Homo sapiens: one gene and its partners. The protein of the gene in region 2 interacts with the protein of the main gene of each other region in a pairwise test. Each region holds a gene or a part of one and is shown on either strand. Other genes may lie near its edges.

What was found. The genes of interacting proteins can lie anywhere in the genome.
Region 1: the proteins of PRMT2 (region 2) and HNRNPUL1 interact in a two-hybrid assay, tested with the Homo sapiens proteins (2 studies listed by BioGRID and IntAct).
Region 3: the proteins of PRMT2 (region 2) and RBM12 interact in binary tests that used the Homo sapiens proteins (3 or more experiments, as listed by UniProt).

What each region holds. Positions count from the first base shown.
Region 1 is NC_000019.10:41,288,342-41,295,373, forward strand, and holds part of HNRNPUL1 (heterogeneous nuclear ribonucleoprotein U-like protein 1), read left to right. Parts: intron 1-3,903; coding exon 3,904-4,170; intron 4,171-5,996; coding exon 5,997-6,119; intron 6,120-6,216; coding exon 6,217-6,345; intron 6,346-7,032.
Region 2 is NC_000021.9:46,631,058-46,638,687, forward strand, and holds the start of PRMT2 (protein arginine N-methyltransferase 2), read left to right. Parts: upstream 1-4,616; 5' UTR 4,617-4,706; intron 4,707-5,381; 5' UTR 5,382-5,490; intron 5,491-5,838; 5' UTR 5,839-5,894; coding exon 5,895-5,933; intron 5,934-7,630. UniProt on the Homo sapiens protein: Arginine methyltransferase that methylates the guanidino nitrogens of arginyl residues in proteins such as STAT3, FBL, histone H4. Acts as a coactivator (with NCOA2) of the androgen receptor (AR)-mediated transactivation.
Region 3 is NC_000020.11:35,648,423-35,654,930, reverse strand, and holds the end of RBM12 (RNA-binding protein 12), read left to right. Parts: coding exon 1-2,407; 3' UTR 2,408-6,006; downstream 6,007-6,508. Other genes in the region: CPNE1 (copine-1), read left to right, coding at 1,389-1,403.

The DNA.
Region 1 (7,032 bases), on a different chromosome or scaffold from region 2:
TTCAAGTGATTCTTCTGCCTCAGCCTCCCAAGTGCTGGGATTACAGGCATGCGCCAGCATGCCCGGCTAATTTTGTAGTTTTAGTAGAGACAGGGTTTCACCATGTTGGTCAGGCTGGTCTCGAACTCCCGACCTCAGGTGATCTGCCCTCCTTGGCCTCCCAAAGTGCTGAGATTACAAGCGTGAGCCACCATGCCCGGCCTTGGTGGGGATCTTTTTATGGTACTACCAAGAGAGCTTCTTTGTACTTTTATATTGTCTGTAGTCATTGTATGACTGTACCATAATTGATTTAACCTAGCGCCTCCCTTTGGTGGACATGTCGTTACTTTTGCAGCTTTGTATTTAGTGACTGTAATGGCTGTCTAGTATTCTGATGCAGGGGTTTGGGTACCCTGCTTTAATTTAGCCCGTCTTCCTGTTAGTGGCTGTGAAAGTTGTTTCCTGGAACAGATAAATGCGGCTTGTCTTTTTTCCATTTACTGGAGTAACTTGGAGATCTTTTTGTAGCCCCACATATGGATCTCCTGTGCAATTTAGCCACTCCTACTTCCCCATTGGAGCACATTTTCCGTGCTGGCATGAGCATTTTGCACATAGAATTTTGCATTCTTGTGGGAATGTAGTTGTATTCCTTCTTGAAAGTTAGATTCTAAGTCAAAGGTATATTTTTAAATTTTCATAGCTACCACCAAGACTACACTCCAAACAGGTTGCAGTAATTTAACTTGTCACTGTGTGACAGTGTTTGCCAAAGTCTGTTCTTTCAGAGTATGAGGTTCTTTTGGTATGTGGCAGTATGGAACTCTAGGCCTTGACTCTTGCTTCAACCAGAACATCTCTGCATCCAGTCTTAAGATTCCTTATATAGTTTTCTTTGTTCAGAAGATACCACAACTTTAAAAAGGCTCAGGGTGAGGAGTTGGTGGGGGTGTAAAAATCATTGGTCTCCTGGAACAAGAGGGGAGGACATTGGTGTCAAATATCAAGTCCTCAATTTGCAAAACAAAAAGGTAAAACAGCCTTCCAAGTGGAGAACAGAATAACCCATTTCAGCAAACCATAAAGAGTATGATACTTAGAGCCTAGGGACAACAGAAAGAGGTGTGAGACACCAGGCTATAAAAATGGCAGGCTCTGAATTATGCCAGGCTTCAGGAGTTTGGGTCTTTAGGCCTGGGACTGACACAGGAGTGTTTCAGCAGGAACAACAACACAACTCCACTTGCCTTTTGGACAGATGGCTCTGTTGGTGGTAGATGGGTTGGTTGAGGGCGCCGGTTTCTGTGCATTATGGGAAGTTCCTATAGTGAAGCTGGTGGCCATAAGGAAGGCTAACTAACACCAACAGTCATACCTGCTCTCCATGGTCTTTTTTTTTTTTTTTTTTTTGAGAAGGAGTCTTGCTGTTGCCCGGCTGGAGTGCTGTGACATGATCTCGGCTCACTGCAACCTCCAACTCCCTAGTTCAAGTGATTCTCCTGCCTCAGCCTCCTGAGTAGCTGGGATTACAGGCACTCGCCACCATGACCAGCTAATTTTTGTATGTTTAGTAGAGACGGAGTTTCACCATGTTGGCCAAGATGGTCTTGATCTCTTGACCTCATGATCTGCCCACCTCGGCCTCCCAAAATGCTGGGATTACAGGCGTGAACCACCACATCCAGCCGCTCTCCATGGTCTTGACGTGGGTGCATGCTTAGAGATGAACAGGCATGAGGGCCTCTGACACAGAGCTGTGCCCTGTGAGCACTGAGGAGGTTAATGAGGAAGCTCCTCAAGGGAGGGTGCTTCTGTCGCTTCTTGAAGGGCAATTCCCAAGGTGGTCACCTGAATAGAGAAAGAAATTATACTTTCATATCAGAAAGCGAACCGTGTATTTTGCTTCAGTCTGCTATCTAATCTCAAGTTTTGAGCCTTTTCTTCTCTGAGATGGGCATTTAGAAAAATATTTAACAAACGTTTTAAAAATATAAATTTTAAAAAGGCAAAAAAACACTAAGAAAAAAAAGAGCCTCTCGTATCCTGCAGCCAAAGCAATGTTTCCAAAACACAGTTTTGAGCAGGCTGCTCCTCTATTCAAAATAAGTCAGACACTCTGCTCTGCCACCAGCATCAAGTTCAAATTCCTGCGGTAAATTAGAGTCCCTCACATGCCGAGGTAGGCCGTGTCCCCTCCCACCACTTCAGTCCCAGCCCCTTATTTCTAGCACAGTGCCTGACATTTTGCAGTGATAGCTCACATTCCTTGTGTGCTCACTGTGTATTAAATGTACTAGCCCATTTAACAGTTAGAATAAACATAGGCTGTATAAAATATTATTACCCCGCCCCCCTTTTTTTGATAAAGAAACAAGATGAAATAACTTAACCAAGGCCACAAGTTAGTAAATGGTAGAACTGAAGCCATCCACCTTCTAAAATGGGATCATAGGCTAGGCGTAGTGGCTCACACCTGTAATCCCAGCACTTTGGGAGGCTGAGGCGGGTGGATCACCTGAGGTCAGGAGTTCGAGACCAGCCTGACCAACATGGAGAAACCCCGTCTACTAAAAATACAAAATTAGCCGGGCGTGGTGGCACATGCCTGTAATCCCAGCTAATTGAGGCAGGAGAATCGCTTGAACCCAGGAGGCGGAGGTTGTGGTGGGCCGAGATTGCGCCATTGCACTCCAGCCTGGGCAACAAGAGTGAAATTCCGTCTCAACAAAAAGAGGGGGGATCTTAATTACTAACTTTAGCAATTCAATAAGTAGTTGTTACAGAATAAATGAATGTGGTCCCTGCATGGCTCTTCAGCTGTTCCTGAATTACTTCCCCCTCATCTTTTATGCCTCAGCCAATCTGACCTTGTGTTCTGTCACTGCTAGGCTTATATACAAGCAACTGAGAAACCTCAGAAACTTGCTTCTAGGTAGGTCATCTTACTGAATTATGATAGAGTGTCCTTGTCTCATTCCCCACTGGTCGCTAAGCTCTGTCGGTCCCAGATTATGCAGACATGTGTATCAGAAAGAGTACGAACTCAGGGAACATGTTGAACAAGCTGAACTCAGTTCGAAAAGGCCCTGCGGTGGCTTTCCTTCATCTGTTATATTCATAGACTGCCCTTTCTGGGTTTCTTTTGTTTGTTTTTGTAGAGATGGGGTCTCTTTCTGTTACCCAGGCTGTACTTGAACTCCTGGCCTCAAGCATCCTCCTGCCTTGGCTGCTCAAAGTGATGGGATTATAGGCGTGAGCCACTGCACCTGTCTCCTCATCAGTTTTCAGGACAGGACTGGACCACCTTTTCCTTCGTCTTCATCTCAGTCTAGGCACAAGACTCAAATACTTGGAGCTTCTTAAAATTACCTGCTTTAGGACAGGTGCAGTGGCTCAAGCCTATAATTCCAACAGTTTGGCAGGCCAAGGTGGGAAGATCACTTGAGTCCAGGATTTCAAGACCAGCCTGGGCAACATAACAAGACCCTGTCTCTACAAAAAAATTTAAAAATTAGCCAGGTGTGGAACATGCCTGTAGTCCCAGCTACTCAGGAGGCTGAGGTGGGAGGATTGCTTGAACCTGGAAGTTTGAGGTTGCGGTGAGCCCTAGCTGTGCCACTGCACTCAGCCTGGGGGACAGGGTGAGACCCTGTCTCAAAAAAAAAAAAAACAAAAAAAAAAAACTCTTGCTTACTTGCTTCATATCCACCAACTTTGGGGTCTTAGGCAAGGAGGACTTTGGGCTGGACATTCTCTGAGATGTTCACTGATGCTGCCCAGCTTACCTGTATGTTGGGGAAGGATGCACTTCAATCTGGAAAGCTGTCCACATTCTACTCCCTGCATCTACTGTCCTCACATTTGACTCCCAGTGCCTATGGCAAGAGTTGGCAATCATATTCCTTTGGCTTTTTCTCCTAGGATTTTGAATGTGGAAATGACGTGGAACTGTCTTTTACCAAGAATGGAAAGTGGATGGGCATTGCTTTCCGAATCCAGAAGGAAGCCTTGGGGGGTCAGGCCCTCTATCCTCATGTCCTGGTGAAGAATTGCGCAGTGGAGTTCAACTTCGGACAGAGAGCAGAGCCCTACTGTTCTGTCCTCCCGGGGTTTACCTTCATCCAGCACCTTCCCCTTAGTGAGCGTATCCGGGGCACCGTTGGACCAAAGAGCAAGGCAGAATGTGAGGTGAGTGGGGCCAGAATGTATTGGTGGCCACCTTGCTGCCAAGACAGAGGAGACACACACACACACACACACACAGACTTGCTGCGAGAGTAGCCTTGGGGCAAGTGGCCACTTTGTCCCAGCTCCTCAGGGTTGGACTCAGAGCTGAAAAGCTGCTCTGAGTGTGAGGTGAGGGGTGTTGGTGTGACCTAAGTTGAAGTCGGAGAGGCTACCTAAATCTCAGAAAGATTGCATCTTCTTCTTAAGTGAGGCCAGAATAGGGGAAAAGGAGGCTTTTCTTACAGCAGAAAAGGACACTAGGCGCTTCTTGGGGAGTGCACTGTGCCACCAAGTGTTCTTTTTTTTTCTTTAGAGACAGGGTCTCGCTCTGTCACCCAGGCTGGAGTGCAGTGGTGCGATCACGGCTTACTGCAGCCTTGACCTTCCAGGCTCAAGTGATCCTCCCACCTCAGCTTCTCGAGTAGCTGGGACCACAGGTACATGCCACCATGCCAGGCTAACTTTTTTAGCCACTGAGCCTGGCCCACCGAGTGTTCTTGAAGGAGGTTGAGTAAGTTCCACCTCTCACCCAGAGCTATCAAAAGATAAATGGCCTTTGGGAAGATTTGATTCCAAGAGCTATACTAGTGTCTTTTTTCTTAAAACAATATTTTTCTTGTATGTGTAAGTTATTTATGCTTGTTCTAGAAAATTAAGAAGTAAAAAATTTAAATTTTCATAATGCCATCATCTACAAATAAGTTTACTTGCAGAGTTTTGGAGTTCATCTGTTCTTTTTAATGTCTAAGTGCCTGTTTTATGCTCACAAACATTTATCATTGAGATTCTATGGTATAAGCATTATGATACCCTGCTCTTTTCACTTCACATTATTTTGTGAGCTTTATCCCATCACATAAAAACCTCTCTTTGAACATCATTTTTTCTTTTTTAAAAATCCTTCAAGGGAATGAACGTCATTCTTAATGGCCTTACAAACTCGCCACTCCCCCCTAGTCGGGCATTTAAGATGCATCTGTGTTTACCAAATTCTAAATGTACTGATTAGATACAATTCATGTCCTTGTGTGTGCAGCTCTGTTCCTATTTCATACTTAAAGAAAGTTGTACCACTTCTACCCACTCCATGGGGCCAGTCCCAGTACACAGCCTTCCCTGGGCTATTGCAGGGGGCGGGGAATGGGTCACATAATCCTGTAAATGGGCTGGGTTTGGTGGCAAATGCCTATAATTCCAGCACTTTGGGAGGCCAAGAAGGGAGGAGGATCCCTTGAGTATAGGAGTTTGAGACCAGTCTGGGCAACATAAGGAGACTCTCATTTCTACCAAAAAAAGAGAGAAAAAGATTAGCTGGGTGTGATGGTTTGTATCTGTAGTTCTAGCTACTCTGGAGGCTGATGTAGAAGGATTGCTTGAGCCTGGGAGTTCAAGGCTGCAGTGAGCTGTAATTGGGCCATTACACGCCAGCCTGGGCAATAGAGTGAGACCCTGTCTCAAAAAAACAAAATACTATAAATGCTAATGATGACAGCACTTGGTTTTTTGTTTTTGTTTTCCCCCGAAAGTCCTGGGATTATAGGCGTGAGCTACCGTGCCTGGCCAGCACTTGACTTAATGCTCACCCTGTCCCAGGCACTGTGCTCAGAGTCTGACAAGCCTGATCTTTTTGAATCCCGATACCAGTACTGTGAGGTAGATGGTATTACTGCTTCCGCTTTGTAGAGGCAGCCACAGCTCAGAGGTCCAGAGTCACACTCACAGTCACCACCGAGCCAAGTGGTGCCATACCACCATGCCGCAACACCTTCCCTGTCTTGTTCTTGTAGATTCTGATGATGGTGGGCCTGCCTGCTGCTGGCAAGACCACATGGGCCATCAAACATGCAGCCTCCAACCCTTCCAAGAAGTACAACATCCTGGGTACCAATGCCATCATGGATAAGATGCGGGTAAGGCCAGCCACTGGACTCTCCTTACTCACCTCCAACCTACTGAGTGCTGCCCTGCAACTAAAATCACTCACCCCTCACCAATTCCTGCCCGCAGGTGATGGGCCTACGCCGGCAGCGGAACTATGCTGGCCGCTGGGATGTCCTGATCCAGCAGGCCACCCAGTGCCTCAACCGCCTCATCCAGATTGCTGCCCGCAAGAAACGCAACTATATCCTAGATCAGGTACTTAATGATGACCATTGTGTCCTCAGGAGAAGGGAGGGGACCCCTTGCATGCCTGAGAATCTCCCTCTGGTCCCTTTCTTTTTTCCCCCGTAATGATGATGGACTGCTGTGCTAGTCGGGGGGGTCAGACCTTGTCATACATGATGACATGGTACTACACACAGCTGAGCCTGGACTGGGATCATGATCTAGGCCTACTTACTCAGACTCATCAGCAGCCCCAAAGAACATCAGGTAAGAACTGTTTAGCAAAATGGAAGGAGTATGGATTTCCAAGCCTGAGAGACTGGAGCTTGAATGCCAGCTCGGCTACTCCCTAGCTCTGTGCCTTTGGGCAGCTGACTTTATTCTCTGAATCTCCATCTCTTGGTTTGTAAAACAGGGATCTCAATACCATCTGCACCCCTAACGCAGGACCTGGCACTTAGTAGCTGGTGATTATTGTTAAATACTCTACAGAATAGGTAGAGTAGCTTTCATGCCAACAGCAGTGCTGTAAGGTAAATGCTATTATTGCTTCCGTCATTTTCTCTTCACAAATACGTATGACTGGCAGGTACATACCTAAGTCATATTTTCTACCTACACTTCAGTTAATGGTGGAGTTCTTAACATCAGGGACCTTGGAACCTTTGTATTTGAACATAAATATTGTATGCAGCTGCAGGTGTATCCTTTTTATGA
Region 2 (7,630 bases):
GTTTTCTGTTCTTGTGTTAGTTGCTGAGAATGATGGTTTCCAGTTTCATCCATGTCCCTGCAAAGGACATGAACTCATCCTTTTTATGGCTGCATAGTATTCCATGGTGTATATGTGCCACATTTTCTTTATCCAGTCCATCACTGATGGGCATTTGTGTTGGTTCCAAGTCTTTGCTATTGTGAACAGTGCTGCAATAAACATACGTGTGTGCATGTGTCTTCATAGTAGAATGATTTATATTCCTTTGGGCATATACCCAGTGATGGGATTGCTGGGTCAAATGGTATTTCTGGTTCTAGATCATTGAGGAATCGCCACACTGTCTTCCACAATGGTTGAACTAATTTACACTCCCACTAACAGCGTAAAAGCGTTCCTATTTCTCCACATCCTCTCCAGCATCTGTTGTTTCCTGACTTTCTAATGATCACCTTTCTAACTGGTGTGAGATGATATCTCATTGTGGTTTTGATTTGCATTTCTGTAATGACCAGTGATGAAGAGTTTTTTTTCACGTTTATTGGCCGCATTAATGTCTTCTTTTGAGAAGGGTTCATTTCTCTTCATTATTTTTTCTCTAATCTTATCTTCACACTTTATTTCATTAAGTTGATCTTCAGTCTCTGATATCCTTTCTTTTACCTGATTGATTTGGCTATTGATATTTGTGTATGCTTCATGAAGTTCTCGTGCTGTGTTTTTCAGCTCCATCAGGCCATTTATGTTCTTCCATTTGGGGCTGGGTTTATAGTTTTGTAACCCCTATGCCAAATGTTGACACCTTATAGTAATTGGCAGGGATAAGTAGGAAATTGCTTGATAAATAAATGCAAACAAAAATGTATGCTGGCAATTCTTAAGACATTTCTAAATTACTTTGCCACTATTTTTAAAGCTAACTTATTTATTAAAGATTTTAAGTAAACTTAACATTTGACTAGTCTTTCCCTTTTTCTAATAAAGTATTTTATTTGAGCACTTTTATTTTTCTTTAATTAATAAATAAATAATTTATTTGAGCACTTTTATTTTTCTTTAAGCCAATTAATTATAGCTCTTCTATATTTTTTAATAGAGAAACATTGTGTACGCAACACATAAATACATAGATGTATTAGGTATACCGATAGAAGTACATCTTATAGATTCCTAAGACCTCTTTTTTTTTTTCTATCTTAGACTTGCAAACTCTTGATCATCTGTGTCATTGCCCTGGCAGTTGCCGGCTAAATAGCCCTAAATCTGCATATTAAAGGAAACTATTAGATGAAAAATTAGATAGCAAAATTTACATTTTAAGGTACAGAGAGGAAAAAGTCTGGTGGTGCTAAAGAGAGATTAAAAATGGATGTGAAATCAAACATAAAATTATGAAAATCTATCATAGGATTGTATAAGGAGACCAGTTTTATTTAGACAGAGACTCCCTATATTTTAACTGGATCTCTGAGCTCTGGGCAGACCCTACACTGAATCCTGGGTCTCCAAAAAGCGAAAATTATTATGAGGTTAGACTACATCATGCTTTTACAGTGCACTTAAAAAACTTTTTTCAACAAAGACATTTCTACATGTCTAAACTATACTATTCCTTAAGAACTCCAGAGTAGCCTCTGTTGCAGTAACTATTTTAGTAAAAAAATTAGGTAACACAATACAAAAGCAAGCAGTTTAAGAGCTGAGATGAAAAAAAAAAAAAGCTGAGATGAACTTGTCTGTTTACACATTTGGGGTTCCATAAGGAAACAGAGGTTTCTCCTCCAAGGGGAATCTGGCACCTTCTCCGTTTTCTGTAAGGAACCCTGGGTATTACAAACTATATTAGGTTTCCCATGAAGCAGAGGGTGCAAGAGAAAGAAGACACGACAAAAGTAAATGAAGAAAACAGAAGCCAGTCAACTAAGAAGAAAAAAACTTTTGCTCAAAAAGACAAGGTCCTAGGAGAGAAAAAAACAAAAAAAACAAAACTGGAAGCCTTTTAAATACAAACACACACACACAGGCACACAACACACATATGTTGGATGTTAGCTTTTAATTAAGCTTTTAACCATTGAGCTCCTTAAAAATAAACTTTTTCAATCTCATTACTGGCTGGGCATGGTGGCTCATGCCTGTAATCCCAACACTTTGGGAGGCCGAGGTAGGCGGATCACTTGAGGCCAGTTTGAGACCAGCCTGGCCAACATGGTGAAACCCCATCTCTACCAAAAAAATACAAAAATGAGCTGGGTGTGGTGGTGCAGGCCTATAATGCCAGCTACTCAGGAGGCTAAGGCATGGGAATCACTTGAACCTGGGAGGTGGAGGTTGCAGTGAGCTGAGATTGTGCCACTGCACCCCAGCCTGGAACACAGAGCCAGACTCTGTCTAAATAAATAAATAAATCTCATTATCATATTTCAGCTAGGACTAATTGCTGCTATTTCAGAAGTACCAAGTATCAAACCAGAAAGGGCTTAATTTAGGAACTAAACCCAGGCTGTGGTGGTGGAAAAAAAGAAGGCAGAACCCTTAGGTATGGAACTGCAGTGTGGGGTGACAGACATTACTCTTTTTGGTTGGTCTGGCTAGCAAAAATGTGGCCTTGTTATGTAAGAAAAGCCCTTTAAGTAGTCAAAATAAATTTTTTTTTTCTTTTTCCTTTTGCTAGCTGTTTTTCTCCCCCCACCACATCACCTTTTGTGTGTGTGTGTGTGGTGGGGAGGGGTTGAAACTTAGCCACTTCAGAGGCCTCACTTCTCATAATTTGGAACTTTCCTTTGGTTTCGATCAAGTCAGATAGAGTTCGTCAAACTCAATGCGAAAAAGACAAAAGAACAAAAAACAGAAACAACAACAAAAAAACCAGTTAAGCGAAACGAAGGATTGGGCAATTTATAAGGTTACTGAGCACACTAATGGTAAGGAGAAATTAAGACCAGCTGGTTGTTAATCTTAATAGCCAAGACAAACCCCAATTCAGTTACTTCCTAGGGATGGGTCTGAGGCTGAAGATTGCTCTCTACCACCCTAGAAGCAGAGGAAGAAAACCCCTCATCTTTCCTGTGGGAAGCGAGCTCAAACTCCATAAACGAGTTACCTGCCTTCCATTGTCATGGAAGCAGGAAAAAACTACTACTTCCTTATGTTGGAAGAGAGTAAAGCACACCCCGCCCCCCAACCCCCGCCCAACACACAAAAGGAGTTGTACAGCAAAATAAACTAGATCTTGACTAAATCTGGGTAGATCAGGGATTCTCTGGAGGGGGTGCTTCCAGGCCTCAGCAAATTGTCCTATTGGTTTGAGCCATAAAGATAGCTCAAGCTGGTACTAAGGACTGACAGATTTGTCAAAGGTCAGTGGCACCTCTACTCAGAATCCCTTTGTGGTTACCAAAATGTGAACCTTGAATATCTGAGTCAGATCTCAGTCAACTTAGGAAGTTTATTTTGCTGAATTTAAGGATGCACGCCCATGACACGGCCGTCGGAGGCCCTGATGACATGTGCCCAAGGTGGTCAGAGCACAGTTTGGTTTTATACGTTTTAGGGAGACATGAGACATCAATCAATATATGTAAGATGAACATTGGTTTGGTCCGGAAGGGCGGGACAACTCAAAGCAAAGGCAGGAGGGAGCTTCCAGGTCATAGGTAAATATGAGACAAATCATTGCATTCCCTTGAGTTTCTGGTTAGCCTCTCCAGAGGTGGCAATCAGATACGCATTTATCTCAGTGAGCTGAGAGATGACTTTGAACAGAATGGGAGGCAGGTTTGCCCTAAGCAGTTCCCAACTTGACTTTTCCTTTTAAGCTTAATGATTTTGCGGCCCCCAAATTTATTTTCCTTCCACATTTTTTTTTTTAAATCAGACTTAAGGTCTGCCTTGATGTTAATGCTGGAGGAGTGTAAAAAGGCATGTCCAACTCTTACTTCCCTTCGAGGCCAGAATAGTCTCTCAGGTTGAACTTCAGGGTCCCCTGGTAAAGGAGGGAGTCCAGTCAGACGGCTGCGGGGGAGGGGGGGCTTCGAATTTTATGTTTTACAGGCATTAGCGCCACCCATTTCTCCTTAACCCCAAACTTCCTCTCCCCACAACAGAAACGTCATCATTCTGCTTCCACTTATCCAGAAGAAAGGCAGAGGGCGCACACTGCGCAGCGCGGATGGGAAAGTTAACTGAATTATTTGCGGGAAGACAGAGGAGGTGGGGGGTCCCCCAAGCCCCAGCCATTTTGTGGCTCGTAGGGGTTGTCGCTTCCCAAGCCGTGAATGGCCCAAACCCGCCCCCCGCCCCAGGTCGGACTCCTGCCCCGCGCCCCTCTGGGTCGGACCCCAAGCCGAGCCCCCCAACCCCGCGGCTGGGCTGGGCGATTGGGGACGAGCTCCACACATGGAGAACCTGGCCTCGCCTCGCAAGACCGCGGGACGCGCAGATGTGAAGTGCGCCTGCGCGGGGCGCAGCCCCAGCTGCAGACGATCTGTGAGCGACGCGCCGGCGCAAGTCGAGGGCGGTGGCTTGGCTTCCCTGGAATGGGGGACGTCTTAGGACTGCGCCTGCGCGGGGCGCCGGGCCCTGGGCGGGGCCTTCCCGGCTGACGGCCTGCGTGCACTGCGCTTGCGCGGGTTGAGGGCGGTGGCTCAGGCTCCTGGAAAGGACCGTCCACCCCTCCGCGCTGGCGGTGTGGACGCGGAACTCAGCGGAGAAACGCGATTGAGGTAGGTGTCCTGATGGGCAGCTCAGATGGCTGGACTGCACGTAAGGAAGGACAGGCCAGGTGAGGCGTCCTCGCACTGCGTGTGCGTCGCTGGCGGACAGAGGCCTCCGCCCCCTTTTGGGACCTCCGAGCGCCTTCGCGATCTCAGCCACTTTCCCTGGCGTCCAAACGGGAGCTCGGTCCCCGTCACACCCTTCCCTGCGTGCCGCACCCCTTCCCGGCCACTCCCGCCGTCCAGCGCCTTCTACGGCCACGCCCACCCCACCACCATCTCTGTCACGCCCTTCGCGGCCACGCCCACCTGCCTGGCGGCCCCTGCCCCGAAGCTCGCGGCGCTGTCCCAGCCTGACCCTCTCGTGCCCCTGCGTCCACGCGTGGCCCTCTCGCTTCCTGCCCCCTTCTCACCCCCCTTCACTGGCCACCTGTTCCAACCCTCCATGATCCTGTTCCTCCCGAGGGCATCTTAGGAGGGCAGGGTCCTGCGCGCACTGCGGCCTCCACTCCGACCCCGTCCCAGTTTGGACCCAGGTCTTCCAATGAAAATATAATTATGCAAATCAGTAAGCATTTGTAACTACGAATATCACAAAAATAAGCTTCAAGTCTGGATTTAGAAGTGAAGCATGCATTTTAAACAAAGAATTGCTATGCAATTTTAAAAACACATTGATCCCAGAGCAGTGTGTGGATTACACTATCACTGGAAAAATACGAATTGAGAAGAAGGAAAAGACTGGAAGATGCAGACCTTGGTTCCTGTTAGTGGAAACACTGTAAGGTCCCAGGTAGGGACTTTTAATTGGAATTAAAGCTATCACACTTCTAAGAAATTAATGAATACTGATTTATTGCCTTAAGTCGACACCTGATCTAACAGAAACTAACAGGCTTCAGCAAATGAACAAGATTAACACCTTGCAGACTAGTGAAGAAAACACACTATTTGAAGTTTATGATTTTTAAATGCTTTTGTCTCTGTAAAGTATTGTAAATTTTCATTTCTACACTAATCTTCACACATACACATTTTACTTCTATTTGGTAGAGGACATCATGCACATTAGAAGTTAAGTGAACTCAATTATTAAGCAATGTAACAAGTACTTTGTGTCTCCTTCTCTTTTTAAAAGTAGAAATGGAAAAGAAAATGAAATAAATCAGCAGTTATGAGGCAGAGCCTAAGAGAACTATGGCAACATCAGGTGACTGTCCCAGAAGTGAATCGCAGGTAATTTCCGTTCCACTTCCTAAAAATCTGTGTTTAATGAATGTGAGCATTACAGAGAGCTAAGCGTCAGCTCACAGATGTGATGGAGCTTGGCTTGTGCCTTGGAAGGTGGCCACCGGCAGTAGAATGCTTAAATGTGAAGATTGTGAGGCAGAGGAAACGCAGTGCCTGTAAGGTGACATCCTGCATTGGGCACCATAACAATTCTAAGGAAATACTTAGCCCCAAAACATCAGCATCATTTAGGGTTCCATTTTTGGTACGTGAACTGGCAAAGCAAGCATATTTTCTGAGCTGTTCAATAAAATTTCAGGCATAATACCAGCAATATATTGAAGGCAAGTTGGACACATTAGAAAAGATTTATGTATTCATACTGTTTCTGCCTGGGGTACTCATGTAGTTTCGTTCAAGTTAGCAGTAAAAAATACCCCTCAAATTGTAAAGACTGTTGATTATGTAAAAGTCACCAACTGAATAATAGATACTGTTTTTAAAAATCAAGCATTTCCGTATCTGTTATGTCAATTTTAATGTTTTCTTTTTTTCTCTTTCATTCCAATGAGCTTTCATTTGGCTTTTTATATATAGGAATTTTATTTATAGTCAGAATCTTTCGTTAATTTCTTTAATTATTCATAAAATGTTTTAATTCCGTGGACATCTTATTTTTCTTTTGAGAAATTTAACAAATATTAGGACATTTCCAGAATGATATTGTAAACATCAAGTACATTAAACAGTGTACATTAAGCTATATATATGTGTGTGTATATACATATATGTGTGTGTGTGTGTGTATATATATATGTATATGTAAAAAATACTGTCGGGTGTGTCTGTAGTTCAGCTACTCAGGAGGCTGAAGCAGGAGAATCACTTGGGGCCGGGAGTTTGAGGATGTGGTGTATTATGATTGTGCCTGTGAATAGCCACTGCATTCCAGCACGGCCAATAAACTGAGACTTCATCTCTTAAAAAAGAAAAAGCGACACTCTAGATAAAGTTTGTTCCCCAGTCTCAGTCCTATTCCTCCTCTTCTCTCTCTAGAGGCAAACACTACTGTGAATCATGAGTCTGTTTTGTGCCACTGCACCATTTTTATACCTCTATGGCTTATATAGATATACTTGAATGACATATGATATTGTTTGTGTGGGCTTTTTAGAGTTTCCATAGTGGTGTCATACTGTCAGTGTCACCTGTAGCTTGCCTCTTCATATAACTTTACCTTTGGGGAAGTTGTCCTTGTTATGTGTGTAATGCTGGTTCAATCCTGCCACTGTAGGGTACTCCTGTAGTGTGTTCCTTCTCTGAAAGTGTAAAGTATCCTATTTGTAGATATGTGTATGGGCCTGTTGCAGTCTCACTGCTACACAGTAGGCATATACCCCATTTTACTTATTCCCTTTTTGTTGGACACTTAAATTGTTTCTAGTTTTTTCTATTTCAAACAATGCTGTAGTGACCATCCGTCTCCATGCCTCTGTGCTCCAGTAATGGCATTGCAGGGTGCAAGGGATTGCAAGTTTCAGTTTTACTGGATAATGATCAGTTGTTCCCCACAATGACTTTACGAGTTCACAGGTCTGTCAGTAGCCCACAATAGTGCTTACTAACACTTGACAGTATCAGACTTTTAAGTTTTGGTCAGTCTCATGGGTTAGAAATGGTATTTTGTTATTTCAATTTTGCTG
Region 3 (6,508 bases), on a different chromosome or scaffold from region 2:
CAGTGTAGTTACTGCCACCACTTCTGTTCATGAAAGCAACAAAAACATACAGACATTTTCCACAGCCAGCGTAGGAACAGCTCCTCCAAATATGGGGGCTTCCTTTGGGAGCCCAACGTTTAGCTCAACTGTTCCAAGCACAGCCTCTCCAATGAACACAGTCCCGCCGCCACCAATTCCTCCAATTCCAGCGATGCCATCTCTGCCACCAATGCCATCCATTCCCCCAATTCCAGTTCCTCCTCCAGTACCTACATTGCCTCCTGTGCCTCCTGTGCCCCCGATTCCCCCAGTTCCTTCTGTGCCACCCATGACCCCACTGCCACCCATGTCGGGCATGCCGCCCTTGAATCCGCCACCTGTGGCACCTCTACCTGCTGGAATGAATGGCTCTGGAGCACCTATGAATTTGAACAATAATCTGAATCCTATGTTTCTTGGTCCGTTGAATCCTGTTAACCCTATCCAGATGAACTCTCAGAGCAGTGTGAAGCCACTCCCCATCAACCCTGATGATCTGTATGTCAGTGTGCATGGAATGCCCTTTTCTGCAATGGAAAATGATGTCAGAGATTTTTTTCATGGGCTCCGTGTTGATGCAGTGCATTTGTTGAAAGATCATGTAGGTCGAAATAATGGGAATGGATTGGTTAAGTTTCTCTCCCCTCAAGATACATTTGAAGCTTTGAAACGAAACAGAATGCTGATGATTCAACGCTATGTGGAAGTTAGCCCTGCCACAGAAAGACAGTGGGTAGCTGCTGGAGGCCATATCACTTTTAAGCAAAATATGGGACCTTCTGGACAAACTCATCCCCCTCCTCAGACACTTCCCAGGTCAAAATCGCCCAGTGGGCAGAAAAGATCAAGGTCAAGATCACCACATGAGGCTGGTTTTTGTGTTTACTTGAAAGGGCTACCATTTGAAGCAGAAAACAAACATGTCATTGATTTTTTTAAAAAGCTGGATATTGTGGAAGATAGTATTTATATAGCTTATGGACCCAATGGGAAAGCAACTGGCGAAGGCTTTGTAGAGTTCAGAAATGAGGCTGACTATAAGGCTGCTCTGTGTCGTCATAAACAGTACATGGGCAATCGCTTTATTCAAGTTCATCCAATTACTAAGAAAGGTATGCTAGAAAAGATAGATATGATTCGAAAAAGACTGCAGAACTTCAGCTATGACCAGAGGGAAATGATACTAAATCCAGAGGGGGATGTCAACTCTGCCAAAGTCTGTGCCCACATAACAAATATTCCATTCAGCATTACAAAGATGGATGTTCTTCAGTTCCTAGAAGGAATCCCAGTGGATGAAAATGCTGTACATGTTCTTGTTGATAACAATGGGCAAGGTCTAGGACAGGCATTGGTTCAGTTTAAAAATGAAGATGATGCACGTAAGTCTGAACGCTTACACCGTAAAAAACTTAATGGGAGAGAAGCTTTTGTTCATGTAGTTACCCTAGAAGATATGAGAGAGATTGAGAAAAATCCCCCTGCCCAAGGAAAAAAGGGATTAAAGATGCCTGTGCCAGGTAATCCTGCAGTTCCAGGAATGCCCAATGCGGGACTGCCCGGTGTGGGACTGCCCAGTGCAGGACTTCCCGGTGCAGGCCTGCCCAGCACAGGACTGCCTGGTTCAGCAATAACCAGTGCAGGACTGCCTGGTGCGGGAATGCCCAGTGCAGGAATACCTAGTGCAGGAGGTGAAGAGCATGCCTTCCTGACTGTAGGATCAAAGGAAGCCAATAATGGGCCTCCATTTAACTTTCCTGGTAATTTTGGTGGATCAAATGCCTTTGGGCCACCAATCCCTCCTCCAGGATTAGGAGGCGGGGCCTTTGGTGATGCTAGGCCTGGTATGCCTTCAGTTGGAAACAGTGGTTTGCCTGGTCTAGGACTGGATGTTCCGGGTTTTGGAGGTGGACCAAACAATTTAAGTGGGCCATCGGGATTTGGAGGGGGCCCTCAGAATTTTGGAAATGGCCCTGGTAGCTTAGGCGGTCCCCCGGGGTTTGGAAGTGGCCCTCCTGGTCTTGGAAGTGCCCCTGGGCATTTGGGTGGGCCACCAGCTTTTGGGCCTGGCCCCGGCCCCGGCCCCGGCCCTGGCCCAATCCATATTGGTGGTCCCCCTGGCTTTGCATCTAGTTCTGGAAAACCAGGACCGACAGTAATTAAAGTGCAAAACATGCCCTTTACTGTGTCTATTGATGAGATTTTAGATTTCTTTTATGGCTATCAAGTAATCCCAGGCTCAGTGTGTTTAAAATACAATGAAAAAGGTATGCCCACAGGTGAAGCCATGGTGGCCTTTGAGTCTCGGGATGAAGCCACAGCTGCTGTCATTGACTTAAATGACAGGCCTATAGGTTCAAGAAAAGTAAAACTTGTATTAGGGTAGCCATTCACATCATTTTTTATAGGGTAGATCTTCATATTGCTGTGATTAATGCATCCAGATTGTTTTCCTAGTATTTCCAGGTTAGAACCTGTGGATTGTTTCAATTGCATATAGCTTGGTTTCCATAACATAGAGCATTGGTTGACTGTTTACAGAAGACTCACTCACCAGGATAAACATTGCTGTATGTTACAGTAAAGCTATCTGGAGAGAACACATAAATGATTTTGGCATACCATTAGAGAAACCATTTGTAAAACTCAAATGACCACATAAAGCTTATCAAGGAGTCTAGATTGGTTTTGTTTTATACCATATGGGATGAAGAAAATAGAAATGTCAGTAGAACTCATTGAGGGTGCTCTTGCCAGCTGCTGAAAATAGAAGTTGGCTACTCTCAGAATTTGGTTTAAAGCTGGACAGATTTGCTTTGTTATAGGGTAAAGCTTTGTCTAAAGTCCTCATTTTCTTTTAAAATTGAATAAAATTTCTGTATACAGATTCATTGTATGTACCTTTATTGCTTCTTAAGGGTCCTTGCTGTATAGACAGTCCTGCTTCAGAAGTTGCTGCTTTGTTTGTCTAATTGACTCATTTGTAAATGAGCAGAACTGTTTTGTTGGTTTTTTTCCCTAAATATAAAAGTCCACACTTCGTTTGTGCTATAACCTCAAACTTTGATTTCTAATGTCACACTTAAAACTGTGTGGAATAAGACTTTTGCCATAAAAATAAACTATGGAGTCCTTTATCTACCAGAGCCTTTTTGGTTTGACCGCCACGATTTAGGTTAGTCAGTTTAAAAATTGTTCATGTTGTTTGGATGGTATCGAAAACCAGAAACCACTTTTAATAATGTGTTTAAGATACTTGATTTGAAGTCCTTTTCATATGGACTAATTGTAGTATCAATTTCCTCCTGTCCCGATTATGTGAAATTTTGGCCTTTAAACAAAGAGGGGCCCATTCATAAGAAAGTGTTATATCTAGGTTTTTAAAACTGAAGTTGAAATTATCTTTGTTAGCAGTAGTAGTATAGAATAAAAGATCCGTATGCTGGTTCGTAGATTGATACGTGTTAGTCCTGTTATTTGGAGGCTTTTTGGCATAGTTGTTCGATCAGGAGCCTGTTTACTAAAAGTCTTCATACAGAGTACAAGTGCAGCCGCCAGAGGAGAAAATTGAGATTCTTGACCCTTTCATACTCTTTTCTTTGGTATTCAGGACACTAAGGCAGGAGGACCACATGAGTTCTGGTTGGTAAGTGTCCTTGTCATGAAAACACTTGCCTTACAAGGCTCTAATTATGATTTCCCTAGTCAGTGCTCTGAAGATGTGTCACATTATATTATAAACAATACGGAAGGGGAGATAGGTGAGATGATATGAAAAACAAATTTTCTCACTGTCATAAAAGGCTCTAATTATGGTTACTTTCCTTGTGATGAAAAACTTGGCCTTACAGGGCTCTAGTTATGGTTACTTTCCCTAGTCAATGCTCTGAAAATGTGTCACATTATAAACAATACAGAAGGAGAGATAGATGAGAGATCATGAAAACCAAATTTTATCTTTTACATGGCCCCTTTGTCTTCGTTTGAAACATCCCCAACATTTCCTACAAATCAGCGTAGTTACAAAGGGGTCAGTCTTTTAAAATAAGTATTTCCTATTAAACTATATATATATACAGTGCCTTTTTGGTGTTGTGAGTCAGTGGAACACTGAAATACAGCGGTTGTGTAATTTAAGAGTGGCAACAGTTTCATTTGATAAGATTTGAAAAGGCTTTTTATCACTACAATCTTAGAGGATTGACAGTACAGGATTTTTGTTTAAGAGAAGGATTGTTTAGACTCAAGAGGTGACTATGTTGTGGGTCTTTTGATAATTCATGAATACAGATTTGCTTTGACCGATCACTAGATACTGCCTCCTCAATTTCAAAAGCAATATAACGTTTGTATATGCTGTTTAATTTAAGTTAATGTTAAGTAATCATTTCTCATTCCAAAGACAATGCAAAAAACTTCAGCACTGCTTGAGAGTTGTATTTCAGCCACAGATATTTTCTCCATTGGAAAGCTATTTTCATTTTAGAAAAATGGGTTGTTTGAAGATGAAAGTCTTTTATCTTTTTTCACAATTTATTTTGGTTATATGTTCGTACATTCTTATTAAATATTTCATACACTTTATTGCAACTACTTTGTTATTTCTACATCTTAGATAAATGCTGAAAAGGAAAACGATTTCATTGTTCATCTAATTAAATAAATTAAAAGAGCGGTTTGTGTAGAAATTGGAGAGAACTATGTTTTATATGAATCACAACAGTGCTCGTTGTGGACTGTAATTAAATGCTTTGCCCTCTGGAACTTGATTTTTGTGTATCTGAGATTTATTAACAGTGCTAACTGCTAAGGATACTGTTTATCTTGTTCTGGGCATTGGAGTTTCAGTTTTTAAAAAATTCTTGAAAATGTATTCTGTGAAACTACTCATACCTCTCTTCCTGCGAATTTTCTCCTAAGAACTAGGTTTGGGGTAGAAATGAATTGACATTATTTTCTCATTTGCTTTGTATGGTATGAAGGATTTGTAAAGCTTTGCTCAAAGTTGTGTGCATTTGTAAACACTATCATGATATTTTCAATTTTATGTGTAAATTTTATTGTCTGTTTTTGGTGACTCTGACATTAATGGAAGAGAATATTTTCCATTAGATTTAATTTTTTTTCCTCTCCCTTCTGATTTTTTTTTTATTGGTGTTCATTTTTCTTTTGATTTAAAGGATTAGAGAAATCTACAAATGTATGTCATAAATAAGCAAATTTGTAAACTTTTCTGAACTTTAGTGAAACATTTAGTTCACAAGCATAATTTGGAGGTGTGTTCTGTGTTTACACAGTAGTTTGGATGTACAATTATTATTAGTGGCTTTTTAAAAAATGAAACAGTGTTAAGTGAAATGTAGTTCCTAGCTTTGTACTCCAAGTTGTCAAAGCATCAACAATGAAAATTCGATTAGGAAACTTTATTTAAAATTTCAGGTAGTAATATTCAGTGTAGTTAAGGCCAGTCTTAACCCACTGGATGAAAATCTAGGACTGTATGGAAGTAAGCAAACATTACATTTTTAGGTGGAAATAGTCAGCCTTGCATAAAAACAAGGATGCGTGAAAGCCTTAAATTCCAGCTCCCTTTTACTGGAGTCTGTGGTTGTGTACAGGTATGGGCCAAGTGTAAAATCTCATCAATTTTAAGAACACTCGGGAAATGAGTAAAGAAAATGTAAAATTGCTGCTAGTCAAATCTTTTGGAAAGAATTTCTGGAAGTGGTCACTTTAAAAATTATTTTCCACCCTTGCAAAATTGCCACATTTAAATTGTTTTACTGGCAGTTCTATAGTAGTCCAGACTTTAGAAACCAAACACAACAAAATGGCTTGTTGCCAATATGGCCACAACATTGCCAGCAAATACTGCCTTGGCATCACTCAGCAGAGGTTTTTGTTTATAAAGATGAAGTCTTGAATACTGTTCAATAAACTTGTCAAAAAATAAAACAGGCTGATGCTTTTAATGCTTTAACTGCACAAAAGTACTTTACTGAGCTATAATATTATCTTGTCAGGGTTTTTGTTTTGTTTTGTTTTTAAACCTGAAAATATTTTGTGCCTTTGGAGAGGTAGATTTGGTAATCTTGGAGAGGTAAAAATTGTTGCTTATCCTTGCCTGCTAATGCTGAAGTGTCAAGAGAAGAGGATACTTGGAACAGCAGGGAGGAAACTTGATTCAAGTCCATAGTATCCACCTTTTCAGAATTTTATGTGTATGATGTGTTGGCAAACAAAGCCCTTAAATGTTGAAAACTTTTTATCTTGAAAGAGTTTAGCTTGTATTAGAATTTGGATACCCAGTGTGTTTTAGAGGGGGCTAGACATATAATTCCAGGTAGTAGCTGAGCCATTATTAAATAATCGGGATTTGACTAAGCAATGGACAAATCACTGAGTGAAATCAGCTGCCTACAGATATCCAAAATGGCTTTTACCATCTGAAAGGGGTGGACTGTGTGATAATATGTCTCCTTTTCTT